Regions from separate parts of the Homo sapiens genome. Here all the other regions are linked to region 1. Evidence: fine-mapped expression QTL. A gene starts in region 1. Each other region holds a variant in brackets. All regions are shown on one strand. Distances are between the middles of the regions.

Region 1 (10,887 bases):
AACAAAGCCAAGAGTAAATGGGAGAAAAGGAACTGAAGATAGTATAAGCAAATTCTTCAAATATTCTCTCATAACACAAAACCACTGCACACAATGTTACCTCTTCCCAGAATGCTATACCTTCTTTCATTTCTTCTGATGACCCTTCTCCCTATTGTCCTCAAAGACTTAGCTTAGGTATTATATTCTATAAGAAACACTGTGAACTTTTTATATCCCCATGTACATACCATATCACAGGTACATTAGTGCTATTCCTAGTATACATATGCTCATTGAGCATCTGATTGTGTCTAAACTCTGAGTATCTTAAGGCAGGGATTCTTGCACAAAACAGAAGCTCAACAAATATTTCTTGGATGAGAAAACTTTGAAATAAAAGTTCTTAATAGCTTCTAATAATTCATTATTCCACGTTTTCCTTAATGTATATCCAAAACATGTTTTATTAATTGTCTGCATATTTGCACATAAGACATTATAAAATAATAAAGGAAAATAATTAAATGTAAATCTAATAATCTGGCTTCTCCCTAAAGAATATATACTTAATACACATCTATTACAACTTCAACTATTATTCTAGTTAATTCCTACTTTTCCTGGAAAACATCTCTTAATTTTATCCCTTAAATTATGCAATATTTAAAAAACCATAAATATTTTGATATTGCAACACATAAAATGAAATCTTACCAAATATAATTGTTACATGGTCTATAAATAAATGTTAAGTCCATCTAATTCTAGTTACTTAAGCACAGGGACATTTTATTAAATATGTTTTCTAATACTTTTTGAAGCACTACTTCTACATATTGCACAGTGCTTAAGAAAACTCTGGTATCAGGTTTGAGGAGAGGGTTTGTGCCCATTTCTCAAACGGCTTGTGTTAAGAATTCTAGGCATGGTGGGGGCAATGTGTTTCCCAAACAGAATAATCTGAGGCACTTTTTAAAAAATAGATTCCTGGGCTCCAACCCTAGAAGATTCTGACTTTGTGCGTTTGAGCAAAAGGCTAGAAACTGGTGAAAAGCTCTTCAAACTATTTTGAAGATAAGCCAGGTTTGGGAAATCATGAGCATGTATCTAGAAGCATTAAGTAGACTACAAGTAGGTTTCCAGTAATTCCTACCAGAGCTTAAAAAGTTGCTACTCTGAACCCATATAAACACAAAAAAAATCTATCTACCGTGCAAATGTTATTCTGAATCGCTTTTCCAATTACAATTTTGACTTGCGTTGAATAAATTAAGTTTCTATACCATAAATACTGAGCTGTCAAAAACCACTTTTACTAAACTACAATAAGACTTGGTCAGTATTTTTTCTTAAGAACACGATTTACCACAAATAAAGAAAATAGCTTCTACACCCTTCATTTTGTCTTTTAAAAAAGCCATACATAGAAGCAATGAACAGTTATTATTTTAACCTGCAACCATATAGTGTGGTATACTTTTCAAAATATTTCAGATGCATCGTCATTTGAGCTCATCACCAACTGGTGAGACCCTTTCACTATGTTAAAAAAAAAAAAAAGTACTCTAAATTCTATACCTACTTAATACATAAACAATGGGCTCTGACTCCCATAAGGAAAGCAGAGTCAAATAACAAAATGCCCCAAGTTAATTATATTCCATCAATGGTCTTCACTGGTATAGATTATTTGTAAACTCTCAATAATATCCTTAAGAACAATCTTGCAAAAATTTGCTTACGGGAAGTACCTAGAATAATAAATTTGAAAAGATATTGCACTCTGGCTGCACACGGTGGCTCACATCTGTAATCCCAACACTTTGGGAGGCGGAAGTGGGAGGATCACTTGAGCCCAGGAGTCCAGCACACCAGCCTGGGCAACATACAGAGACCCCATCTTTACCGAAAAAAAAAAAAAAATAGCCCAGCATCATGGCCCACATCTGTGGTCTCAGCCACTTGGGGAGGCTGAGGTGGGATGATCACCTGAGCCCAAGATTTCAAAGATACAGTGAGCAGTGATTGCACCATTGCACTATAGCCTGTGTGACGCAGAGCAAGGGCCTGTCTCAGTTTAAAAAAAAAAAAAAGCTATCGCATTCTTGTAACAACTGGCAAAAGTTTCAAAATATAGACCAAGGTATAGATGTGCATCTTATGCTAAAACTGGTAGTAGCTTATTTTATAACTTAGTCTTAAATCTAGACTAGAGATTTTTATAGATACAGATTTTATAGATTTATAGATTTTATATTGATAGAATAACTGGAGAATTTTATCAATATAACTTGAGAAAAAGAACAAAAAAGTGACCCCAAAAGCCCTATATTATTTCTGACATTGAAACTAATTGCCATATAAACCAGTTACTAAGATAAATATAACTAAAAGATAAATGACTAGAGAAGTATACACAAGTAGATGGCAAAAAGAAGATGGAGAACTACAAGCAACACTGAGAAAATGATGAAATGTCATGTGGCACCACCACTGGCAATCCCAGGTGATAATAAAATGGTCAAAGAACCAGTAAGCAAATGATAGACTAGTCATGATTCAGCCTTTACTGAGAAAATGATGAAATGTCATGTGGCACCACCACTGGCAATCCCAGGTGATAATAAAATGGTCAAAGAACCAGTAAGCAAATGATAGACTAGTCATGATTCAGCCTTTACTGAGAAAATGATGAAATGTCATGTGGCACCACCACTGGCAATCCCAGGTGATAATAAAATGGTCAAAGAACCAGTAAGCAAATGATAGACTAGTCATGATTCAGCCTTTACCACCAACATTGCACTCACATTTTCAAAACCTGAGGACAATGATCTGCTCATTCTGGAACAGTTCTATCCTCAGACTAAGTAATATTTGACCAATAAGTTTTACATAAGTTTCAGGCAAAGGTGGAAACAAAACAGATGATGAAAACAGCACTGACTTTTTATTACTAAAGCTAAGGTTACAGCAACATTGGTTTTCACTATGCATCACATTTGTGAATATTACATCTTCTGCTGTGGCATAATTTAAAAATTACTAGAGTTGTTTCTATACTCACAAGTCAAACACTGAACTGAAAAAATATTGAGGTTTTAATATTAGCTCAATATATTTCACAAACATGAATGATCTGTCATTACTATTTGAAATAAAATGTCCAGAGCCCTTTCACTGATTCCTAAATTATATTCTCAGTATCATATTAAATTTGTGCCACCAATTTCAAGATGCTGTATGATTCAGATTTTACTCCCTCATTGAAACTTTTCAGGAAACTTATTTTCATTGTTATACATTAAAGATGTGTCATTTGGATAAAATCATAAGCATGTATATTCAACGATGAGAAATTCGAGTATGTTTGTTGTTTTGTATAAGTTGTGCAACTATACCAAAAGAAAGTCAAAGCATTACCTTCCTTACAGTTTACTGAAACACAATTATGAAATTTAAGCGGTGTGACATATAACACAGCTTCTAATTACTGCTAGAAGAACAAGATGTAATTTACCTCACCAAATAAATCATATCTAGTTTCAGAAGACCTTAGTGCTATACTGCTCTCATAACCCCCAAGGAGTAAAAACAATACAAGTGTACCACGAGAAGACCTCAAAATCCTTCACATTTACTCCACCAGCTGAATTCAACCTAACAGACTAAATTATCTGGAGCAGGGCTTCAGTTAAGGCTGCTCCAGCTAGGTAAAGCTACTATGCCTGGTACTTTGGGAGACCTAGCATATGGAAAAGAAGGGAGACTTGAAAGGATTAGGGAAAAAGACAAGACACTGGGGTAAACTCTACTCTTGGGATAACTAAGAAGATAAATAATTACTACGGGTTTACTTTAGTTTTGTTTTTCCATCAGCAATTTGGGCTATTATAATAGGTCTGTAACCCTAATCACCACGATACAGAGTCCCAGCTTGAGAAAAATGAAATGACTTATCAGTTACCTTTTCAAAGTAATACATTAAATACAATCTGAAAAAGCACTCTGGTGTCCAAAAAACAAAAACAAACAAAAAAAACCAACTGAATACAGAGCACCACCTCATTCCTTACTCTGCAATCTCAATTTTGTCTTTTCTTATCTTTACTCCATCTTGCCCTACCTCTGTTTGTCCTAGGCATCCTTTCCCTCTTACATATTATAGATGTACAGAGACGCAAAACAGAAGAACAACTTTATTTGTGGAATTTACATACCAGGGCTTCTTGCCTACAAGACTTCAAACCAAGGTACCGTATTTGAAATGCCCAATTTAAATCCTGTGCAACATACATGAGGGAATAACATTTTGTAACCAAACCCAAATCGTAGAATCTTTGATAAAACCCCAAGAGCACCACACAAACACATTCTCAATTGCTTTTAATATATTTTCCTCTGTAAAGGACAAAAAATGCTGTGCTTGAGGCAATAATCAGTGGCCTAGAATGATTTCTGAAGCTCTTGACTTTACCATAAAAGTTGTACTAAGACACTGATTGAAAATTACATTTCAAATATACCGCTCACTAAAGAAATGTCAACAAGCTCTGGGACCAACTTTGAGTTATTGTCCAAGGAAGACTAAAAATAGCCCCCCAATAGCGATTTAATTTTAAGAAAATACAAAAGTAGCTTATTTAGGAGTATTTTAATGAAGATGAAGAGAACTGGAAATCAGTGAAGTTTTCAGCAGCCTCTTCAGATAAGACCTACCTTAAATTGCCTTCAGGTGTGCACATTTTAACATCCAGTGAATTGCCTGGAGGTTGCCTGGGGTTTCTGCTGATTATAGCAGGCGGTGAAACCTGAACTAATAATTACGGCCAGGAGGTGAGAGCCCTTCAGGACGCCACCCTGGGCGCGCTCCCCGGGAGCAGCCCACCGCTTGCTGTGCTTCCATCAGTCCTTTATTAGGTAAAGGGTTTCCCCCCACCCCGGGTGCTTTAAGAATGCGTTTAATAAGAAATTTCTCACAGGATCTAACGGAATAAAGTGCCACCAAAATAACCTTTTCGCAGTTTTCGTAATTGTGATGGAGTGGGAAAGGGGACAAAGCCGTCAAACCGGGTGCCCGGTGGATCCGCGGACCTGATCTTCCTGCACGGACCCGAGAGAGAGTCCCTAGACGAGGAAGAGGGGAAAGGCATTTGTAGGGTGTTAACTGGTGGACTCGGGACCAGAGAGACAGCTGCGGATTCCCCTCGGGGTGATGCTCCGTGCAGGAGCGGTCACGGCGTCCAGAGGAACCCGCGGGTGCAAACTCCGGGAGCGGCTTGCAGGGTGACGGCGGCGGCCCCCGCTCCCCGGTACCTGATGATGTCGTCGCTGTGGCCCCGGTAGAACTTCTGCCTGTGCTCCCGCGGGCTGTACACCACGCCGACCCCCGCCACGAAGTATACGATCTCCTTGGCCGCAGTGTAGTAGAGGTTGTTGCGGCACTGGTGGCCCCGGTAGCCGTACACCCACTCGAGCCGCAGGTGGCAGCTCGGGGCGCTCCGGGCCGCCATGTCGGGGCGCCCACCCGCCGCTCCCGCTCGGGCCCGCGGCGGCGACGGGAGGCGGCGGCGGCCCGGCAACGAAAGCCCTCCCGCTGGCTGCCGGGACTTCCCGCCAGCCGCGTCCTCTAAGCCGCGCCCGTCAGGTGCATCTCGTTTCGGGGGCCGCCGCCGCCTCAGCCCACAGGCGGGAGGAAAACCCTCGCCTCGCGGAACATGCTGAGGGCCGCGAGCGCCGCCGGCTGTCAAGTGGATGCCCAGAGCCCTTCGCCCGCCTCGGCTCGCCTAGTCTCCTCAGCCCGTAGCGCCTGGGCCGAGAGCGAGGGCCCGCCTCCAGCTCCTCAGCCGCCGCCCGCGCACGCAGCTCCCAGCCCCGGTCACCTGCGGCGCTCGCGCCCCGCCGCGGCTTTGTAGCCACAGCCTGGCGGACCCGCGCCGCGCACCCCGAAACCGAGCGAGCCGAGCCGAGCCGAGCCGAGCGGCGGGCGCGCGGCCTTGCGTGGCCCCGCCCCCTCCCGCGCTCACTCCGCCCCTCCCGGAGCCGAGAAGAGGCTGGAGTTCGCGGGGCCACGGTCTAGTTGCGGAGTCGCTGGGACCGCGTCTCTGCAAGTGCGCGGGCCGGTGAGCCCTCCCTCGTTGAGCTGCTTAAGCCCAGGCGGACCCTCGGCGACCCCGGGCTCCCGCTGCTTTGCGTCCTCAACCGGGAAGCACCTGCCGGTTCCGCACGGTCCCTGCACCCAGCGTAGGCCACGTTTTTGCCTGGGAAAATCCACACCGGGATGCTAAATTCTCTTTTTTACGCTTGATACCTTGTGTGTCTTGCTGCCTTATAGTGCTTTCGGACCCAGACATTGGAATGATGCCGAGCTTCCTAAATGTGCTTTTAAATTATTATTTTTAGAAACAGAGCCTCGCTCTGTCGCCCAGGCTGGAGTGGAGTGGCGCAGTCTCAGCTCACTGTAGCCTCCAACTCCTGGGCTCCAGCGATCCTCCCGCCTCAGTCTCCGGAGTAGTAAGGAGTACAGTTGCGTACCACTATGCCCGGCAAATGTTTTGCTTTGTTTTTAAGTTTATTTTGTAGAGGCGGGGGTCTTGCTGTGTTGCCCAGGCTGGTCTCCACCTCCTGACCTTCAGCAGTTCTTCTGCCTCAGGCCTCCCAAAGCGCTGGGATTACAGGCCCAATCCACTGCTCCTGGTCCTAAGTGTATGTTTTCTTAAGTGACCGCAAAGCTGAAGGTAGACTTTAGATGGTAAACTGACATGTGAGATCTGATTTCCGAATAGCAAAAAAAAAAAAAATTGTACTTCGATTTTTTTAAAAATGACTGGGACATCACCAACAGTTACTCTTAATTAAATAAATTCAATTGTGATCCTGTAGAAAACTCCTGTAATAAAAGTATTGGGAACAATCAATTCCTGACTATGTCATTTCCCCTCCTACTCAGTTGTGTCCTCTTCTCACAGGAATATGAACAAGATTTATCAATACCTCTAAAAATAATTGGAAATCCACAATTTAAAAAGTGTTAAGTTCAGGATGGCCACAAGATTTACAACAAAAAAATACTAATTCAGGATATACCAATATGAACCCTTATTGTCTAAAAATTACTGTTTGATTTCCATAGGAAATACCAAGACAGAAATCTGACAAAAGCTAAAATAAACTACCATCGTTTCAAGAAATATGACTCCAAAAGGGGTTGACTCCTGTGTGGTACAGATATATTGGAATAGATGTTATCCAATGTCTACTTCCTCAAAGATGCCAGTTACTAACTTGAGACAGGATTACCGTTTCGTCTTTGATTATGACTTCTAATCTGCAAGCAGTTTACATGCAGGAAATAAAGGCCATCTGAAAGGAATTTACATAGATGTCATGAAAAGTAAACTCTGAAAGAGTTTCCATTCTGGGCAGAATCTGAAAAAGAGGAATAGCTTTCTGGCAGCTGCTGCAAATAAACAAAGAAATCAGGCCTGAGAAGTGGCTCTAAGGCCCATGTAGGGTACCCTGGGCAAAAGCACACACAGTTTCTCTTTGTCACCAGGAGGGCGTTTTCTGTTTTTTAATAAGAATATGTTCTAATTCACTAGTGAGTTCCTTGAAATCCCCTGGTGAGAAAAAGAAAAATTGTTGATTATTTAAATTCAAGCAGTGAACTTAGAAAACATTAAATATTTGTTGCTATACATTTGTGATATATTAATTACTGGTTACATGTAAATTTTATGAGACGAGATGGAAGAATATAGTTTTTTCTATGTTTCGGATTTTTCAGCACAATATCTTATGGATCCCATGATACACACTTAAGTACTCAGATTAATAAGAGATTTAAGTAATTTATTTTCCCATTATCATATTTTCCATTACGATTTTAATGACCCAAGTGTAGAGTGCGAAGCAAAAACATTCTTAATTAAACCATCCTCAACTGGCGACTCAAGACCAAAAGAGACAGCCGAGGCACAAAGGTGGCTAGAAAATGAACCATTCATGAATACTAGAGGAAGAAAAAAACAAACCTGATCAGTTCTTACCCTCACAACTTTATATAATCCAGTATTACCAATGTCACATCAGAAAGCTTAATGAAGCTTCTATTGCTAGGTGATATTCCATCATCTGTATCCTGTGAAAGTAATGCAAATAAGGATGTGGGAGAAAGAAACAAAAAATTATACACATCAACAAATGGACATTTGTTAAGCATTCCAGACGAAGGCTGCAATACCCCCTGTATTCGTCCGTTCTCATGCTGCTAATAAAGACATACCTGAGACTGGGTAATTTATAAAGAAAAGAGGTTTAATTGACTCACAGTTCCGCATTGCTAAGGAGGCCTCACAATCATGGTGGAAGGCAAAGAGGAGCAAAGTCGCACATGGCAGCAGACAAGAAGAATTTGCGCAGGGGAGCTCCATTTATAAAACCATCAGATCTCATGAGACTTATTCACTACCACTAGAACAGTATGGGGGAAACCACCCCCACGATTCAATTATCCCCACCTGGCACCACCCTTGACATGTGGGGATTATTACAATTCAAGGTGATATTTGGGTGGGATACAGCCAAACCATATCACCCCCTTTGGTAATCTAGTTCCTGAAACTTGAGTTCCTAGTATGGAATTTGAGATATTTGAAATATTTCTAAAATTCAGGCAAATAAATCATGTGCTGGCTACTGATTAGGTACCCTTAGGTTTATAAAGAAATCTAAGGCAAAATGTAGAAAACATAAAAACCAAAATTCCCCAGCCTGGCCAATATGGCAAAACCCCATCTCTACTAAAAATACAAAAAAAAGTAGCCGGGTGTGGTGGTGCAGGCCACCATCTCAGAAAAAAAAAAAAAAAATTCATGCAATTACTTCTAGCTAGCATGGTGGCTCTCACCTCTAATCCCGGCACTTTGGGAGGCCAAGGTGGGTGGTCAGGAGTTTGAGACCAGCCTGGCCAACATGGTGAAACTCCATGTCTAGTAAAAACACAAAAATTTGCCAGGCATGGTGGCGGGCGCCTGTAATCCCAGCTACTCGGGAGGCTGAGACAGGAGAATCGCTTGAATCCGGGAAGTGGAGGTTGCAGTGAGCTGAGATCGCACCACCGCACTCCAGCCTGGGAAACAAAGAGTGAAACTCTGTCTCAAAAAAAAAAAAAGTATATATATATTATATATATATTATATGTTATATATATTATATATATTATATATATATTATATGTTATATATATTATATATATTATATATATATTATATGTTATATATATTATATATATATTATATGTTATATATATTATATATATATTATATGTTATATATATTATATATATATTATATGTTATATATTTTATATATATATTATATGTTATATATATTATATATATATTATATGTTATATATTTTATATATATATTATATGTTATATATATTATATATATTTTATATATATATTATGTTTATATATTATATATATTATATATATTATATGTTATATATATTATATATATTATATCTCTTATATGTTATATATATTATATATATATTATGTTATATATATTATATATATTATGTTATATATAATATATATTATATGTTATATATGTTATACATATTATATGTTATATGTTATATATATTATATATGTTATATGTTATATATTATATATATTATGTATATTATATGTTATATATATTATATATATTATGTATATTATATGTTTTATATATTATATATTATATATATTATATGTTTTATATATTATATATTATATATATTATATGTTATATATATTATATATTATATACATTATATGTTATATATATTATATATTATATATATTATATGTTATATATATTATATATTATATATATTATATGTTATATATATTATATATTATATATATTATATGTTATATATATTATATATTATATATATTATATGTTATATATATTATATATTATATATATATTATATGTTATATATATTATATATTATATGTTATATATATTATATATTATATGTTATATATATTATATATTATATGTTATATATTATATATATTATATGTTATATATATTATATATATAATATGTATATAATATATATAACATATTATATATATATATCTGTAGTCTTACCTTTGATCAGCCTATTGTACATGCAGAGCCTACCACAGTGCCTGGTACTACAATAGCTGTTCCCTACATATTTATCAACCATGAATTAGAAAAGAAAATGTTGTGCACAATCCTATTGTGTTGTGCACAATAGGATTCCTCTTAGTTTTATCTTGAATACTTGAAATCTTTGAAAACTTGGAAGTTTTCTTTCTTTCCTTCTTTTTTTTTTTTTTTTTTTGAGACAGAGTCTTGCTCTGTCACCCAGGCTGGAGTACAGTGGTGTGATCACACTTCACTGCAGCCTCGACCTCCCAGGCTCAATTGATCCTCCTACCTCAGTCTCCCAAGTACCTGAGGCTGCAGGCATCTGTCACCGCACTCAGCTAATTTTTTATTTTTTAGTAGAGGTGAGGTCTCACTATGTTGCCCAGTCTGGCCTCAAACTCCTGGACTTGAGCAATCCTCCTGCCTCAACCTCCCAAAGTGCTAGGATTACAGGTGTGAGCCAGCGTTAGCCACTATGTCCAGCCTTGAACCTTATTTGATATCCAATACTGTGTTAGTCAGGACTTCTTTGGTTGTACGTGACAGAAACCCACTCAAAAGGCTTAAGATAAAAAGGGAATTTTAATGCCTCATAAGACTGAAAAGCTCTAGAACTGGCATCAATGCACTTGAATCCTAGGGATCAAGTGATGTCATCAGAAACAGGTCATCAGGCTGGGCACAGTGGCTCACACCTGTAATCCCAACATCTTGGGAGGCTGAGG
Region 2 (10,887 bases), 140 kb before region 1:
TCAGTGATACCAATTCCAAAGGAAAAAAATGTGCAAAACTGTGAAGAGAGGTAAAGAACACTAAGTAACAGTATCCCATTAATGCTAAATATGGAAGATGACAAAAATACAAAGTTAGGCTTTGTAAACACAGCAAAGAGAGGATTACCTGGAACCTCTTTTCAGCAGCAGATAAAGAGGGAAAAAGATTACAACATAAATTTGAATTGAAAACACTAGTGAAATACCTCCTGTAATAAAATATTTTAACAAGTTTAATGCAGACAGCTATATTGCATAATATTAAAGGCCTGTTGTTTTTAGTTTATAATCCCAGCACTTTGGGAGCCCAAGGCAGGAGGATCACGAGGTCAGGAGTTCGAGACCAGCCTGGCCAACATGGTGAAATCCCGTCTCTACTAAAAATACAAAAAACATTAGCCAGGCATGGTGGCACGCACCTGTAATCCCATCTACTCAGGAGGCTGAGGCAGGAGAACTGCTTGAACCCAGGAAACGGAGGTTGCAGTGAGCCAAGACTGCATGCGCCACTGCACTGCAGCCTGGGCGACAGAGCACGACTCCATCTCAAAAAAAAGAAAAAAAAGAAAGAAAAAAGAATAAAGAAAAGGCATAAGGCTGGGCACAGTGGCTCACACCTGTAATCCTAGCACTTTGAGAGGCCAAAGCAAGAGGATTGCTTGAGCCTGGGAGTTTGAGACCAGCCTGGGCAACACTGTGAGACCCCATCTCTATAAAAAACACAACAATTAGCCAGGCCTGTGGCACCTATAGTCCCAGCTACATGGGAGGGTGATGTGGGAGAATCACTTGACCTGGAAGGTCAAGGCTGCAGTGAGCTGTGATCACATCACTGCACTCAGCCTAGGTAACAGAGTGAGACCGTCTCAAAAAAAAAAAAAAAAAAAAAAAGGGTTACTCCATTAATTAATAACAGGGAATCACAAGAAAGGTGAAAAAAGAAAAAAACAAATAAATGAGAATTCAATATATTTCATGTTGTGAACTTTAAAGCTTGCCATTCTTATTTTTCTGCAATATAATCTGAATTTTAAACAAAACATTTAAGCTTATTTTTGTTTTTAAGAATGGGCACTGGCACTAAAATGTTAATTTAAAAAGCTGGTAGCACTGGAGATACTTCAAAGGAAATTGTCTAAAGAGCCTAAGTTCCACCTGTTCTGACCTAAGAGGGTTCCCCAGTCAGTGAATCCAAGCAGGCAGAATTAGTCACTCGGGACTATGCTGAATTTAGAATTTTGCTAGTAAAAAAAGTAATCTTTAAAAAGTTTTTTTTCTCTCTTAATAGCATAATGATCAAAACAAAATTGGAAGGAATCATGAAAGTCATTTCATCCATTTTCCCACTGAGACCAGGAACCTTCTTTACATGTCTAGAACAATCATTGTACAGCTTTGATGACAACTAATCATCTAAACTCTGTATAAATACTGCTTGTGACAGGTCTCTTCTACATAAAAAGCCATTCATATCCAAGATAACAATGATATCTCCATTTAGTTTTCTTGTTTTGAAACAAGATTCCCAGAATAATAATTATTATATTTTTTTGAGACAGGGTCTTGCTCTGTCACCCAAGCTAGAGTGCAGTGGTGTGATCATGGCTTACTTGAGCTTTGACCTCCCACGCTCCAGACATCTTCCTGCCACAGCATCCCACGTAGCTGGGACCACAGGTGCACACCACCACACCCTGCTAATTTTTAAAATTTTTTTTGTAGAGACGGTGCCTCATCAGATTGGCTAGGCTGATCTTTAACTCCTGGCCTCAACTGATCCTTCAAACTTAACATCCCAAAGTGCTGGGATTACAGGCATAAACCACTGCACCCGGTCAATTAACTATTCTTTATATGAAGTGGCCTCCCAACCTCCCTTCCTCCTGTGCTTTCTTCTAGCCCATTATAAACTATCCAAGTCTCCTTTAAAATGTAGAGATCAGTACTGAGTAAGCTATTCTAGATGTGAGGCTAGATCCGGGTGCTTTATTTCTGGTAAAATAGTATAAGATTTTATGGCCCATTTTAGAGGTTGCTTCATACTCTGAACTCATATCTTTGTACACACCACTCTGCTTAAAACAGATGATGGATTCCTGCTGTAGATATAATATTAACAGGTGCCTATTATTTGAGTTTCTGCACCATCTGGTCTCAAGTCTACTGTTTTCATCCTTATCTCCCAGCATTTTCCTAGTGATACCTTCCTCCCGCCACCCCCCACCCCCGAAACAGGGTCTTGCTGTGTTGCCCAAGCTGGAGTGTAGTGATGCCATCACAGCTCACTGCAGCCTCAAACTCCCAGGCTCAAGAGACCCTCTCACCTCAGCCTCCTGAGTAGCTGGGACCACAGGGCTGCCACCACACCCAGCTAATTTATTTTTACTTTTATTTTTTGTAGAGACAGGGTCTCATCATGTTGTCTAGGCTGGTCTTGAACTCCCAGGCTCTAGCAATCCTCTCACTTCGGCCTTCCCAAGTGCTGAGATTACAGGCCTGAGCCACAATTACAGGCCTGAGCCACCGTGCCCAGCCATGATACCTTTTTTAATTTATAAAACAGACTAGCCATTTCCACACTGTCGTTTCAGAAACTCTTTCAAGACATTTTCACATCACCAAAGGTAGATATAAAAGTAACCCAAAGAGTCTTTACCTACATGTCATTTTATTAAACATACAAATACCATAGTTACCCTCTTTTCATCTTTTTAAATGAATGGATTAAACATGCATTAAATCATGTTAACAGGTTTAAAATTGAATAGTCTTTCACTTAAATATATGTGTGGTTAGGTTTGTTTTTACGAGCCTCTGAAACTTAAAGAAAACCAAAACTATTCATTTGCATTGTAGTAGTTTGTACAGTCATATGTAAAACAATTTATCATAATGAAGACCCTTATAATAACAACCATATATGCTATCTAAAAATGCAACTCTTTTATAGAATTTGTCCTACTTCATTTTATAATGCTTTGTTGACAAATGTAGTTAAATGTTTTATAGGGAAAAAATACCTTAAAATACCATAAAGAATAAAATAAAGGGTAAATTTTTGAATAAAATATTTTCTTTTATAAAACACTTACCTTACTACTCCCTGCCTTCAAAAGGAGCAAGGGGGAAAAAAGTAGGAAAACATATAAAAATTGATGATGAATAGAATACAGCATTTTAGCAAACAGAAGAAAGGCAACATGTCAACAGAATTTTAAGGAAATACAAAAATGTCTAACTTATGTCACATTGGTTTAAACATTGATTTAAATATTTTTATTCACAAATACTGGAAATTTGACAAAAATTAACTACTTTAAATACATAATATTTGTTATAAAAACATTTATTGGCTGGGCAAGGTGGCTCATGCCTGTAATCCCAGCACTTCGGGAGGCTGAGGTGGGTGAATCACTTGAGGTCAGGAGTTCGAGACCAGCCTAGCCAACATGGTGAAACCCCGTCTCTACTAAAAATAACAAAAAATAACTGGGCGTGGTGGTGCCTGCCTGTAATCCCAGTTACTCAGGAGGCTGAGGCAGGAGAATCATTTGAACCCAGGAGTTGGAGGTTGTAGTGAGCCAAAATCGTGCCACTGCACTCCAGCCTGGGCGACACAGCAAGACTCTGTCTCAAAAGAACAAAACAAAACAAAAAAATAAAAACAAAAACATTTATTAAAAAAGAAAAAGGTAAAATTATCACTTAGGAAAAACATCCACGAAAGTATCAACCAAATAGAATGGTTATTGTCATCAGAAGCATTTTTCCTTTTAAGTGGATATTTGATAAGTATTTAATTGTTTTTAATTTTTTTTTCATTTATTTATTCTCCCAGAGACAGGATCCCACTCTGCTGCCATAGCTGGAGTGCAAGGGTGCGATCATAGCTCACTGCAGCCTCCAACTCCTGGGCTGAAGCAATCCTCCTGCTCAGCCTCCTGAGTAGGAACCTCCTGGTACAGGCATGTACTACCATTCTTGGCTAATTTTTCTATTTTTTGTAGAAATGGGGTCTTGCTGTGTTACCCAGGCTGGTGCTAAACACCTAGTCTCAAGCAGTCCTCCCACTTCAGCCTCCCAAAGCACTGAGATTGCAGGCATGAGGCACAGCACCTGGCCTGTTTTCCATATAAAGTGCTTTATTTCATATTTATGACAGTAATATATGTTACTAAAAAGCAATTATTTAAATAAACCATGAACCATATTATCTCCTCACAAATATTCTAAGTTGGTAAAAGAGATATGAACCTCTTCATTTGTAATCTCCTTTGATTTTTTTTCATTTTGTGAAAATGAAATCACATT[G/A]ATGACTTCTGCCTTGTCATTTTCTTTTTTTTTTTTTTTTTTTTTTTAAGGCAAAGAGTAGAGCTTGGACTCTGCCACGGGGGCCAACAGACCCTCTCTCTCCCTCCCCACACCTTGTCATTTTCAAAATATTTAGCAGGGTTGAAATTGTAAAGTAAATTGAGAACAAAATGCAAAGCAATTTGAAAAATTACTTTGAAAAAGTTAGCTGCAGAATATACAAGCTAACATCAAAGATTTCAGTTATGACAGTGTTAATCATTCTTCATGAGTAGTAAAATATTTCCATCTGTCAGAACATGCCTCACTTCAGCAATGGGTGGAAATTTACATTTAAGTGTTTTACCGTGAATGAAGCAGACTACAGATTAAAATTAGGTCACATTTTCTGACATACCAAATTTATCCAATAAATAATTTTTTTAAAAAATCAATATAACAAATGAAAGAAATTTATGGGAATGTCTAGAGCCCCTTCTTCCCCATAGAACACTTTTCACTTTTCATTACTTAGGAGACATAATTTTCCTTAAGTCATATTAAACACTACACTTCAAATATTCTAATTAGAATATTTAAATAATATTATATTTTCATATTTATCTGTATTTATCTAATAAATACATATGTAGCGCTTATTGCTTTGTGAATATTTAATTTCAGAAATAATGTTTAAGTATTTACCAGGTATCTCCTCAGTTAACTTTCATTTCATTCCAAGGGATAAGGTGTCATTAATGAAGACCTACTATCTAAATTCTTGATTTACATTATTTCATTTAAAACTTGAAATATACCATAAGTTAGGGATTATAATGTTCATTTTGCCACTGAGGAAACTGAGGTTCAGAAAGAATGAATAATTTTTCAAACTCACACAACTGGTAATGAAAAAAATGAGTATTTTACCCATTTGTCTGACTCCAGAATTCATGTCCTTTGCACTATACGATGCTGCATTCTAGCAAGTTACTTGAAACATGGAATTCTGTACAAGTACTTAGATTATGGTATACTGTGCTTTCTTAAAAATATCCCTAATTTAATACTTTGCCTCTTTATACATAATGAAAAACTGGATGATCACTCTCCATCCCCTTTCCTTAGGTGACCTCCCATTGCTATGATCTGAGGTACATGAGGTATACCATCAGCAAACGACACCTGGAAAAGGAGCTGAGGAGGCACTGCGCCCTTAACACTCCATCTAGACTTCCCTGGCAACGCGGGGGTCAGTCAATTTACAAGATCTCTCAGTTCTCCCTTCCCCATTACTAACGTGTTTTTCACCTTAACTTCATCCCTTTCCCCGAATATAAAATCCATAGGTGCAAACTCAAATCCCTCTGACGAAGCTTTCCTGTAGTCATTTCTATCTCTCTGAGTTCCAAAATTCTTCAGCACTATCCTAAATGGCCACAAATTCGCTTGAATTTTCTACAAATCCTGTTCAACTGTGAATGAATTCCCTTTTAATTTCTCCCTCAAATTGTCCACTAACTTCTCATAATAAAGTTTTCCTCACCACAACCTTGTTCTCACCTCCCACTCCCTCTGTTCCTTCTTACTGTTTCTGGATCTTTTCCTTTTTTGTTCTTTAAACCTCTTTGCTTCTGAAGTCCATGCCATTCAATGCTCCATATCCCTTTTTATTGTTTACCACCTTTGATTTTGAAACACTAGTTTCACAATTTATTTCTTAATCTGTCATCTAGCTCAGAGACTTTATTAAAAAGTGATCTCTAAATTACTTTGGGCAGTATGGCCATTTTCACGATATTGATTTTTTCCTATCCATGAGCATGGAATGTTTTTCCATTTGTTTGTGTCCTCTCCTATTTCCTTGAGCAGTGGTTTGTACCTCTCTTTGAAGAGGTCCTTCACATCCCTTGTAAGTTGTATTCCTAGGTATTTTATTCTCTGTGTAGCAGTTGTGAATGGGAGTTCACTCATGATTTGGCTGTTTGTCTATTATTGGTGTAGAGGAATGCTTGTGATTTTTGCACATTTATCTTGTATCCTGAGACTTTGCTGAACTTGCTTATCAGCTTAAGAAGATTTTGGGCTGAGACAATAGAGTTTTCTAAATATAAAATCATGTCATCTGCAAACAGAGACAATTTGACTTCCTCTTTTCCTATTTGAATACCATTTATTTCTTTCTCTTGCCTAATTGCCCTGGCCAGAACTTCCAACAATATGTTGAATCAAAGTAGTGAGAGACAGCATCCTTGTCTTGTGCCGGTTTTCAAAGGGAATGCTCCCAGTTTTTGCCCATTGAGTATGATATTGGCTGTGGGTTTGTCATAAATAGCTCTTATTACTTTGAGATATGTTCCATCAAAACCTAGTTTATTGAGAGTTTTTAGCATGAAGGGGTGCTGAATTTTATCGAAGGCCTTTTCTGCATCTATTGAGATAATCATGTGGTTTTTGTCATTGGTTCTGTTCATGTGATGGATTACATTTATTGATTTTGGTATGTTGAATGAGCTTTGCATCCCAGGGATGAAGCCGACTTGATTGTGGTGGATAAGCTTTTTGATGTGCTGCTGGATTTAGTTTGCCAGTATTTTACTGAGGACTTTCACATCGATGTTTACCAGGCATATTGGCCTGAAATTTTCTTTTTTTGTTGTGTCTCTGCCAGGTTTTGGTATCAAGATGATGCAGACCTCATAAAATGAGTTAGGGAGGAGTCTCTCTTTTTCTATTGTTTGGAATAGCCAGAAGAATGGTACCAGCTCCTCTTTGTACTTCTGGTAGAATTCGGATGCGAATCCATCTGGGCTTTTTTTTGGTTGGTAGGCTATTAATTACTGCCTCAATTCCAGACTTTGTTATTGGTCTATTCAGGGATTCCACTTCTGGTTTAGTCTTGGGAGGGTGTATGTGTCCAGGAATTTATCCACTTCTAGATTTTCTAGTTTATTTGCGTAGAGGTCTTTATAGCATTCTCTGATGGTAGTTTGTATTTCTGTGCAATCAGTGGTGATATCCTCTTTAACATTTTTTATTGTGTCTTTTTGATTTTTCTCTCTTTTCTTCTTTATTAGTCTGGCTAGCAGTCTATCTATTTTGTCAATCTTTTCAAAAAACCAGCTCCTGGATTCACTGATTTTTTGAAGGGTTTTTTGTGTCTCTCTCTCCTTCAGTTGTGCTCTGATCTTTATTTCTTGTCTTCTACTAGCTTTTGAATTTGTTTGCTCTTGCTTCTCTAGTTCTTTTAATTGTGATGTTAGGATGTTGATTTTAGATCTTTCCCACTTTCTCCTGTGGGCATTTAGTGCTATACATTTCCCTCTAAAGACTGCTTTAGCTGTGTCCCAGAGATTCTGGTATGCTGTATTCTTTGTTCTCATTGGTTTCAAAGAACTTATTTATTTCTGCCTTAATTCTGTTATTTACCCAGTAGTAATTCAGGAGCAGGTTGTTCAGTTTCCATGTAGTTGTATGGTTCAGAGTGAGTCTCTCCATCCTCAGTTCCAATTCAATTGCACTATGGTTTGAGAGACTGTTTGTTATGATTTCTGTTCTTTTGCATTTGCTGAGGAGTGTTTTACTTCCAATTATGTGGTCAAATTTAGAATAAATGTGATGTGGTGCTGAGAAGAATGTATATTCTGTTGATTTGGGGTGGACAGTTCTGTAGATGTCTATTAGGTCCGTTTGTCCAGAGCTGAGTTCAACTCCTGATTATCCTTGTTAATTTTCTGTCTCGTTGATCTAATATTGACAGTGGGGTGTTAAAGTCTCCCACTATTTTTGTGTGGGAGTCTAAGTCTCTTTGTAGGTCTCTAAGAACTTGGTTTATGAATCTGGGTGCTCCTGTATTGGGTGCATATATATTTAGGAAAGTTAGGTCTTCTTGTTGCATTGATCCCTTTACCATTATGTAATGCCCTTCTTTGTCTTTTTTGATCTTTGTTGGTTTAAAGTAGATTCAATGCTATCCCCATCAAGCTACCAATGACTTTCCTCACAGAATTGAACTACTGTAAATTTCATATGAAACTAAAAAAAGAGCCCATATAGCCAAGACAATCCTAAGTAAAAAGAACAAAGCTGGAGGCATCATGCTAGCTGACTTCAAACTATACTACAATGCTACAGTAACCAAAACAGCATGGTACTGGTACCAAAACAGATATATAGACCAATGGAACAGAACAGAGGCCTCAGGAATAATGCCACATATCTACAACAATCTGATCTTTGACAAACCTGGTAAAAACAAGCAATGAGAAAGGATTCCCTCTTTAATAAATGGTGTTGGGGAAACTAGCTACCCGTATGTAGAAAACTGAAACTGGACCCCTTCCTTATACCTTATACAAAAATTAACTCAAGGTGAATTAAAGACTTAAACATAAGACCTAAAACCATAAAAACCCTAAAAGAAAACCTAGCTAATACCATTCAGGACTTGGCATGGGCAAACACTTCATGACTAAAACACTGACAGCAATTGCAACAAAAGCAAAAATTGACAAATGGGATCTAATTAAACTAAAGAGCTTCTGCACAGCAAGAGAAACCATCATCAGAGTGAATAGGCAACCTACAGAATGGGAGAAAATTTTTGCAATCTATCCATCTGACAAAGGGCTAATATCCAGAATCTACAAAGAATTTAAACAAATTTACAAGAAAGAAACAACCCCATCAAAAAGCTAAGGATATGAACAGACACTTCTCAAAAGAAGATATTTATGTGGCCAAAAAACATGAAAAAAAGCTCATCATCACTGGTCATTAGAGAAATGCAAATCGAAACCACAATGAGATACCATCTCACATCAGTTAGAATGGTGATCATTAAAAAGTCAGGAAACAACAGATGCTGGAGAAGATGTGGAGAAACAGCAATGCTTTTACACTGTTGGTGGGAGTGTAAATTAGTTCAACCATTGTGGAAGACAGTGTGGCAATTCCTCAAGGATCTAGAACTAGAAATACCATTTGACTCAGGAATCCCATTACTGGGTATATACCCAAAGGATTATAAATCATTCTACTATAAAGACACATGCACATGTATATTTATTACAGCACTGTTCACAATAGCAAAGACTTGGAACCAACTCAAATGTCCATCAATAATAGACTGGATAAAGAAAATGTGGCACATAAACACCACGGAATACTATGCAGCCATAAAAAAGGATGAGTTCATGTCCTTTGCAGGGACATGGATGAAGCTGGAAACCATCATTCTCAGCAAACTAACACAGGAACAGAAAACCAAACACCACATGTTCTCACTCATAAGTGGGAGTTGAACAATGAGAACATATGGACACAGGGAGGGGAATATCACACACTGGGGCCTGTCAGGGAGTGGGGAGCTAGGGGAGGGATAGCATTAGAAGAAATACCTAATGTAGATGATGGGCTGATGGATGCAGCAAACCACCATGGCACATGTATACCTATGTAACAAACCTGCACGTTCTGCACATGTATCCCAGAACTTAAAGTATAATTAAAAAAAAGTGATCTCTCCTCATAAAATGGCCTTGCATATGTCCTTACTTTTTTATTTGCTGATTCTAGACTAAGACCAATAATTCCCATTAAAGACAACCTGCCTTTTTAGAAAATTTTTGAAATGAGGACTGACTATGCTTAAAGAAAGGCACATGGATAGGCAGGCCTTTTCAAAATTGAATCACAATACTGCTCACATACTTCTTAAAAAGTACTCGGTATTGGATTCAATTTTTATTATCTCCTCCAACCTCATCACACACATTTATAAAAGTTAGCAAATAAGATGAATCATATCAACCTTATAAACATGTATAAATCCCTAAACCAATAGTGTTAACACATAGTGTTACCATCAATAGGGTTTTGTTTTTGTGGGTATTTTTTTTTGAGACAGGGCCTCATTCTGACACTCAGGTAGGAGTGCAGTGGCACCAATCATAACTCACTGCAATCTCAACTTCCTGGGCTCAAGCAATGCTCCTGCCTCAGCCTTTGAAGTAGCTGGGGCTACAAACACACACCACTAAACCTGGATTATTTTTATATTTCCATAGAGACAAGGTCTCACTACATCACCCAGGCTGATACCAAAAGGTATTTAAAGACAGACATACTTTCTAAGAGGTGCTGTGAATTGTCTATAGCAAGAATATCACTGTTACTTAGTTTGTGTAAAAAAGCCACTTAAATAATAAATTCCATTTTTAATGACAATATCTTTTTCTTCATCTAATACTAAACTAAATTATTACCTTTCATCAATTGAGGGTTCTTTTTGTTGTAAATGAGGCTTGATTCCTAACATTGGGCGAATATTTGTTGATAAGGCTCTGATGGTGTAACTGATTTCATTCTCCCTTGTAACATCACTGTCATAGCCTACAATAAAAATATACGAGTAATTCTTTAAGCAATAACTGAGATCAATTATGATCTTATAAATTGGATACAAAGATGTTCAACAATATGAAATAAATTAAGTTGTTATAAGCAAATTATGAAGTAATATACAACCAGAAAAAACGATGTAGAAGAATATTTAATTATATGTAATGATGTTTT
Region 3 (8,000 bases), 41 kb after region 1:
AACATATCGTGTGATTATCTAATTGGTTTCCTCTTTGGGGCCATGGAGACTTAGCCAGACTTAATCCTTTGATTCTATACGCTGTGGGGCAGGTCATTTTATGAATTTGTATTCCTGCTGAATTACACAGATTACACTCCCACTTGGCTGCGTGGTCACTAGATCTCTCTAACCTTCTGAAATCCATCAATTCCTCTATTCTCTTAAACTTTTTCCCCCTTCTTTTATTACTAAATTTTGAACAATGACTCGGCAGTTTAAGCTGAGGAGACTCATTAGCCAGCATAAGTAGTGGTGGTAATTAGAAAGTTGCATTCAGAATTATCTGGAGATTTAATTCCCTAAAGTAACAGAAACAAGCTAAGAAAATGCTGAACCCTAGGGTGGAAGGAAGGAAGCAAACAGATGTGACTTGAAGTTGATGCTAATGGGTATTTTCTGGTTCTAGGAAGTGGCACTCTACTTTCCATGTCCTGTTACCCACTTTGAGGGAGATTCAGAGGAAGTTTTAATTTGATCTTCCATCACTGGGAGTCAGTTCTGAGTTCTGAAAGGGGGAGTAATAGATGGTTTGGTGCTTCTGTTAAGCTTATACTTGAATAAGTATGATAATATATGTGAAAGAACTCTAAAAGTTGTGAAGTTTTCTTAAAAATGCAAGGTTTTATTATTAGTCCTTAAGATTCTCCTATGAAGTAGGTACTATTGCTTTAATTTGAGAAGGTAATGTAGATTATATGACTTGTTCAAGGTCATGCAGCTAAGTGGCTCCCTGAGGATCAAGCCTAGCCCACGTCTTCTGACTCTAGGGCAAAGCCTGGAGCTTTCTGCTCAACTGCGCTGATACCTGTAGAAATAGTTTGCTAGACTAAGTGAAGCTGCACGGGTGGATTAATTTAAATCACAGAACTACAACTGAGAGCGACCCAAAGAGGAAAGGCTCAGTGATTTTTAAAAAAGAGTTTTCCCCTATCTCCTAATTAAAACATTCCGACTCTTCCTTCATAGTCCTGCTCCTGATGGATCTCCACAGAGCCATGCCTGTCCTTGGTCTCTCCACATCCTACGGTAGTCTGTGTTCCATCCTTGCTGTCATCCCACATACTCAGCAGAGTCCTGCTCTGGGCCCAGAGTGTCTAGGTTCAAATACTGCCTCTATACCTTTGAGGTAAGAGACCAACAGGACTTGTTTTCTGGTCACAACACGGCTGACCAAAATAGGATCTAGTCTAGACAGGTTAAAGTGAAGAAACCAGCAGATGGCAAGGAAAGCGACCCCTCGCTGCCCTCACTGCTCATCAGTAGAACACCCCTCCCACCAGCTGCCATGACAGTTTAAAAGTGCCATGGCAATGACCCAGAAGTTACCACCTCTTTCCATGACAACAACCTATAAGTTACTGCCCCTTTCCTAGAAAGTTCTAAATAACTTGTTCCCTAATTTGCATTGGCCCACCCCTTAATTTGCATGTAATTGAAAGTGGGTTTTCATGAGTATAAATACAGTTGCCAAGAGCCCATAGTTGCTGATTCTGGCTACACTGCCTATGAGTTAGCCCTCCTCTGCAAGGAGCAGTACCAGCCAATAAAGGATTGCTGTCTAATACCACTGACTCACCCTGGAATTATTTCCTTGGCAGAGCCAAGAACCCTCCTGGGCTAAGCCCCAATTTTGGGGCTCACAGGTCCTGTAACATCTTGCTCTGAGTGTTCTCATCTGTAAATGGTGATGATAGTATACCTATAACTCAGAGGGTGTTATAAGGCTCATGAACATGTGGTAAGTGATAAAAAATGTTAGCTGCTGTTGTCTGTATACCTACAGATATTTGCATGCAGGATTCTATCATCTATATTTTTCTTAAAGGATTGCTGGGAATCTGAAAAGCATTTTTGAGGAAGATGTCCAGTGAAATGGATGGTGAAAGGATGTTGAATATAGTTCATAAATCATTGGCACTCAATAATTTCCAGAATAATCTCCCCCTTCTCTGACTCTCTTATCTTCCATGTCTTCTGCTTTTCTTTTGTTCACCTAAGTCATCTATAATTTGACCACAATGTGAGTATAGTATTTGACACATTGTATTGTAATTTAGGTGCCTCCCCCTCTAGAATGTTGTGGAATTAATGTGTTCTTGGCCTCATACCCACTTAGGCCTGGTCTCCATTTTCCTTCAATGCAATCCCTCACCTGTCTCTGCACCTCCCTACTCATTAGGCCTCTCATTTTCTCTTCTGACCTGCACATTGATGATTTCCTGTAATTTCCCTACACACTCTTCATCCACATGATCAGCCCTAAATGTATCCCTGAAGGGCAGAGGAACAAGACAGAGAGATCGCGGAGACTTTCCTCAGTGAGCAGAAATCCTCTGAGGCTGAGCTGGTGGTTTCATTTTGTGTCACTGGAGGAATCTACCTGCCCTTGGCAAATCACAGCATCCAGTATCAGTGGCTTCTGTCTCCTTTAGCTGTTTTTTCCTTTTCAAGCATTGTCTACAATCACCTCTAGTAAACTTTCTCCCTCAGTTTTCTATAATATATTGGATTTATCTTGTATCTCTCCTAAACTTTACCTTTCATTCCTGCCTTACTATGTCCAACTCTCTTTTTTTTTTAATCTCCAAGAGGCACTGGCAAGAAGGAGCATTTGATTCCCTCAACCGTTTGTGTGACCTTAAACAAATTACTTAACATCTCTGAATTTGTTTCCTTATCTGTAAAGTAGATAATACTTACCTGCTTTCCTCAGATGGTTGTTATGAGACTCAAATGAGATAATGGGCTATAGAGATATGTATACAAGTAAACAGAAGAAAGAAAGAATAGAATGTGTTACTTCTTTCATCTGGCATGTCATTCCCTGGATTGGTGTGTTTCCTTAAGTTTGGACTGTATTTAGGAAATCTATACTTTTTCTACATCCTTGGTAGGTGCACTGGAGTTGAAAACCTCCAATTGCTATGTGTTCTCTAGTTGCTGTTTTGTGTTCGGTTCAGTTGATTGCCACATCTTCTGTAACTTCCATCCTTTGGGGCCCTCATTTTCTAGCCTAACTTAACCTTTTCCTCTCATGTTCCTACCATGCGTCATGTTAAATAAATTACCTGTCCTTGCATGGTGACCATATGGTTTGCACATTGCTTGTACCAAGAATATATTCTTAAAAAATATTTGAGGTGTTCTTTTTGGATTTAGAGCTGTAGAAAGCAAGGATCTTTTTTCCTTTTTCTGTTTCTTAGTACTTTCCCCAGTAAAACAGATTGAGTGCTCAACAGACATTGCTGACTAGACAGACATGTAAGTGTAGATGTTTTATAAATAAATTTGTTATAAGTCTGATTTTTTTAACCAGTGGGTTTCTATTTAATTTGTACAGAAAAACCCAGATGCTGAGTTTATCTGAAGGGTTTGTGTTATGTGGATTTTCCTTCTTCTCCTTAAGTGATTAAAGTCTGAATGTTTTAACCACCGTGAACTTATTTTTGAATAAAAGGAAATATTTCCTTGGTATAGTTATGGGATTATTCTCAATTTCTGATATATTGTGTGTTCATTAAACAAGTAGTTATCATCTCTTTGCACTTTGAATGAGGTTAGATTAATTAGAATTTTCTGATCATTGAAAATTTAGCATTCTTCAATGTATATTCATTTTACACAACTCTTGAGAACACTTCTGTAGGAAGACTAAAGTTAATTTTTTGGATTCTTATTGAATGAGTTAGAGTTCACCTACAAATACTTGGTT[G/A]GTCCTTAGGACTTTTTATTTTAGAAACTGTATTTCTTAAAACTGTTTACTGCCTTCTTAATGCTTTCCAGGAACCAGATCCTGAATTGCCAGTGCATCAGGTAAAGAAAGGTTTAGCTGCAACCTTTAGTTTAGAGAATTCTTTAATGCTATTGCTTAGTTGTTGCTATAGATTAGAAAATTTGCTGCATATCTTCCTGTGGGTTTATAAAATTAGCCATATCTGTCAGACATTCTGTGCCTTCTTATGTAAATAAATGATTATATTTTCAATACTTTTGTGTATATTGATAGCCTTGTAGAACTAATAATGCAGTCTACTCATTGGGACTTGGAGCTTAAATGGAAATGACCAAGATGGATTAGAAGGATATGAAAAATAAAGAAGGAGGTGAGGGGAACCAAGGGCTTAGAAAGGGAGCGGGAGAGTCAGCGGAATGACAAATGTCTGAAAGACTGTGATGGATGGGATGGCATGTCTTGAGTCAAGAGTGGACTGTGCTTGGGAAGGTCTTGGTTTTAACTGACCTGGTGGCTCTAAGAGGGAGGAGGCTGCCACAGTGAGGGAAGAAGAAAGGGACACTGGCCAGACAGTCACATCGAGCAAATCAGTTTGGATAAGGATAGGAGGCAGCTAGAGCCTTGCTAACTGGATAAAACACAAGAGAATGAATTGGGAGGAAACCCTGGGAGAGAGGAGGGGGACACCTGGCCAGTGATACTTTTAATCCAGGAGAGTTGCCAGTGAGTCTGGGACTAAGGAGAGAAGTTGTGCAGAGTTATAAATCAGAGAGCTTAAATGTTGCCAGGTGTTAGCCCTACCAAGCGAGATGGAATGTTAACAGCGGTTTTTTTAGGTAAATAAAAGACTTGAACCTTATTAGGGGTCCATATGTGTAATTAGCAAACCTTTTAGAATAAAAAGCAATTTACAAAGTACTCTTATGGAGGCTTGTGTAGTATTAAACACACACTGTAAATAGGTTAAAATGTGGCACTGTGTTCTTTAAAAGGCTGACATTTGTCTTTTGAATGTTCATAATCTTGATTTACAAACTGATAGATGGGGCAAAACTATTTTTTTTTTTGCATAATATGGGTACAAGTCATTCAAGAAGGATCAAAGTTATAAATACTGTGGATTTTGTTCTCAGGAAATTTGGAAGATTTTGATTAAAATTTAAAACATCAATAATTTGCATTGTAGAAATGGTTTTAAAACTATAAATGGCATTTAAGAGCTTTAAACTAGCACAAGGACTCATGAAAAATCTGTATTTGGCATTATTTTCCTGTTCTGTTTGTATAGACTTAATTATTCACTGGATAATGATACAAAAGGGAACAAGGCTGACTAGATTCTTTTGGCCTTACTATTTCCACTTTTGGAATTTCTTATTTTTGCACACTGTTACAACTTCAAAAGGAATGAGGCTATATACAATAACAATTCAGTATCTTGTGCCTAAGTTTTCATTTTCATAGAGTAGGCAGAGTGGCCATAGTTACTGAGTCTTATGATGCTAAATCAGGTCAGACAGACTGTTCCTTTCATAGCCTTATTCTAATAATAACCTAAAATTGTTTCTTACATGCTTTAATCTACTGGCCTTGCATTCTGTATTAAGAGTAACAGAATAATTTAAACATGCTTTGCTCAGTCAGCAGAGTTTTAACCCCTTCATCTGTTTATTTTTATAACTAAAACTGAACTAGTGTCACAGTGGATGGAATGAGTGAGTCAATATTTTCCTGATGTTTGCTGGCAAGTATCTGCTTCAGGAGTAATGTCCTATAGACTAACTCAGTTGGTGAGTGAGATGGGATTGTGTTTCACAGATAAAAAGGGAAAAATTGATATGATTATTCATTTGGTTTGGGAGAATCTGTGCTTTTCCCTTAAAAAACAAAGTTCCAAAAGCATCAATTCTTATTTTTATTGATATTATGGTACTTCTAATACATAAATATTTAAATAAATTTACATAAACTATTTTTTAAAAACTGTGTGACCCTCCCATTTGTTAATAAGTAAACATATCTGATAAGGCAAATTTATATTTTTATTTAGTTTTAAGGGGTAGTTTGGGATTACTGTGTGTGCTTTGTTATTCATTTTATTTTAATCACTGATTAGTTTTAAACTTTTTTTTGGTTTGTTTTTTTAAAACAGGCAGAGGATTTTAGGGATGTGAAACATACTTGGCTTGTTTCCAAAGTAAAAAAAAATTATTATTTTTTTAAAGCCAAAGCTCCTTCTGCTGTTTTCATTAAAATCTCAAGAATTGTTCACATTGCCAGGAGCAGTTCTTTGAAAACAGTCTGATGTTTAATCAAGCAGTGATATGTGATTTTCAAGGTCATTTTTGTTAGGACAGAAGAGAACTCAGGAAGATTAATTTTCTCAAACACTGATAAAATTTAAAATTGAATAACAGTCTGAGTAGATTTTATTCTAGAGCTGTAAATATCAAAAATTCATACCATTGTTTCTTAAGAATCATATTTTAGAAATTAAATTAATATTTTTCTATCTTTTTGAAAAAGTGGATTCTTACGGAATAAAAATTTTAAAAAGATATTCCTAGCCTTGGTGCAGTGGCTCACACCTGTAAACGCAGCACTTTAGGAGGCCAAAGCAGGAGGATCACTTGAGACCAGGAGTTCAAGACCAGCCAGGGCAACAAAGTGAGATCCCATCTCTGCAAACAAACAAACAAAAAAAGCTGGGTGTGATAGTACACACCTGTAGTCCTAGCTACTCTGGAACCTGAGACCTGAGGTGGGAGGTGGAAGGATCACCTGAATTCTGGAGGTTGAGGCTGCACCACTACATTCCAGCCTGGGAGATAGAGTGAGAGCCTGTCTTAAAAAAAAAAAAAAAAAAGTTCCTATTTGACTTTGACTTCGGAAGTATTTATTCATATTGCAGGGAAGGAAGAGTGGATTTTCTTTTCTATATTTTGCTTAGCCTAATATAAAAAATTTCTAACTCTTTAATATTTAAGACGTCAGTTGGGGGATGGATGTCAAGAATCATGATGAATTGGACTATGAAATAACAGTATGAATTTGAAAATAGTTAAAAGTAAAATATATTAATAACCAACTATATAAATGCTGCTATAATGATAAAACTTGATGTTTAAAACTTAAGGCTGGGCATGGTGGCTCACGCCTGTAATCTCAGCACTTTGGGAGGCAAAGGAGGGTGGATCACCTGAGGTCAGGAGTTCGAGACAAGCCTAACCAACATGGTGAAACCCCATCTCTACTAAAAATACAGAAAATTAGCTGGGCGTGGTGGCACGTGCCTGTAATCCCAGCTACTTGGGAGGCTGAGGCAGGAGAATTGCTTGAACCCAGGAAGCGGAGGTTGCAGCAAGCCGAGATCACGCCATTGTACTCCAGCTTGGGCAACAAGAGCAAAACTCCATCTCAAAAAGTAAATGAATAAATAAATAAATAAACTTGATTTAGGTAGGACTCCAAATCATAGTTCTGAAGCCTCATTAGCTTCTCATCAGGATAAAAATTTACATACCTCACTGCGGCATACAGGATCCATCACCTGGCTCCTGACTTTTTCTCCAACCTCTTCCCTCATTCTTCACCTACACTCAATTCTCCTAGAGTTTCCAAACATGCCATAGGCTCTCTAGCTAGCCTGCCTATTGTCCACTTTGCCTGTCCGCTGGGCCCAATTCTTCACTTCTACCCTTCCTTCCACTCCCAGGTAGCTGGACACATTTCCTCTGTTCTATCACACACTTCTTTTTGTTTTTCATTTTTGTTATTACATTTTTCCCATTACATGGAAATTCTTTCCAGTTAGAACTAGGACTATGATTTACTCCTCTTTGTATACTCAGGATGTAGCATGCAGTAGGTGCCCCCTGGTAATATGGGAATGAACAAGCAGAGCCCATGTTGTGCTTTGCTGTTCCAACAGAAAATGCTGTAGTCCTTCCTGTCCACCAGAGAGTGCTGAGCAAAGAATGCTCTTTTGAAAAATCAAAGCTGTCAGATACTGGCAGGGCAGTATGACCTGTAGAGATTTAATATAAATCAGTATTGCCTATTTCCATCTTTGAAGTTAAATTAGAACATTAGCTCAAGCCATTGAGGACTTCCCCGATCCCTGGGAACAGTTGTATAGATATGGTATTGTTCCTGATCTTTGATGAGTGAAAACCTGAGATTTTTTTTCTATACTTTGTTGGCTCTCACAGTTCCAATTGGAGTT

Evidence for each region. PIP is the estimated chance that this variant, and not a neighbour inherited with it, causes the effect. A credible set is the group of variants that fine-mapping cannot tell apart.
Region 2: its variant is the best candidate, but not a certain one, in a credible set for the expression of EML5 in lung (TOPMed, PIP 0.82).
Region 3: its variant is the best candidate, but not a certain one, in a credible set for the expression of EML5 in whole blood (TOPMed, PIP 0.63).

Annotation. Positions count from the first base shown.
Region 1 is chr14:88,787,009-88,797,895 of GRCh38, forward strand. EML5 (EMAP like 5) reads right to left here and starts at 5,945. Exons shown (of 44, transcript NM_183387.3): 1 at 5,299-5,945. The coding sequence starts at 5,495. RefSeq lists silencers at 5,456-5,535, 5,726-6,085.
Region 2 is chr14:88,646,799-88,657,685 of GRCh38, forward strand. It overlaps EML5 (EMAP like 5), which reads right to left. Exons shown (of 44, transcript NM_183387.3): 27 at 10,578-10,704; 28 at 3,114-3,128; 29 at 149-157. Among named protein-coding and RNA genes, the nearest start is that of ZC3H14, 89 kb to the left of the region's middle. The variant G/A (reference allele first, on the strand shown) is at 4,333.
Region 3 is chr14:88,829,868-88,837,867 of GRCh38, forward strand. TTC8 (tetratricopeptide repeat domain 8) reads left to right here. Exons shown (of 15, transcript NM_144596.4): 2 at 3,826-3,855. Among named protein-coding and RNA genes, the nearest start is that of TTC8, 9.2 kb to the left of the region's middle. The variant G/A (reference allele first, on the strand shown) is at 3,755.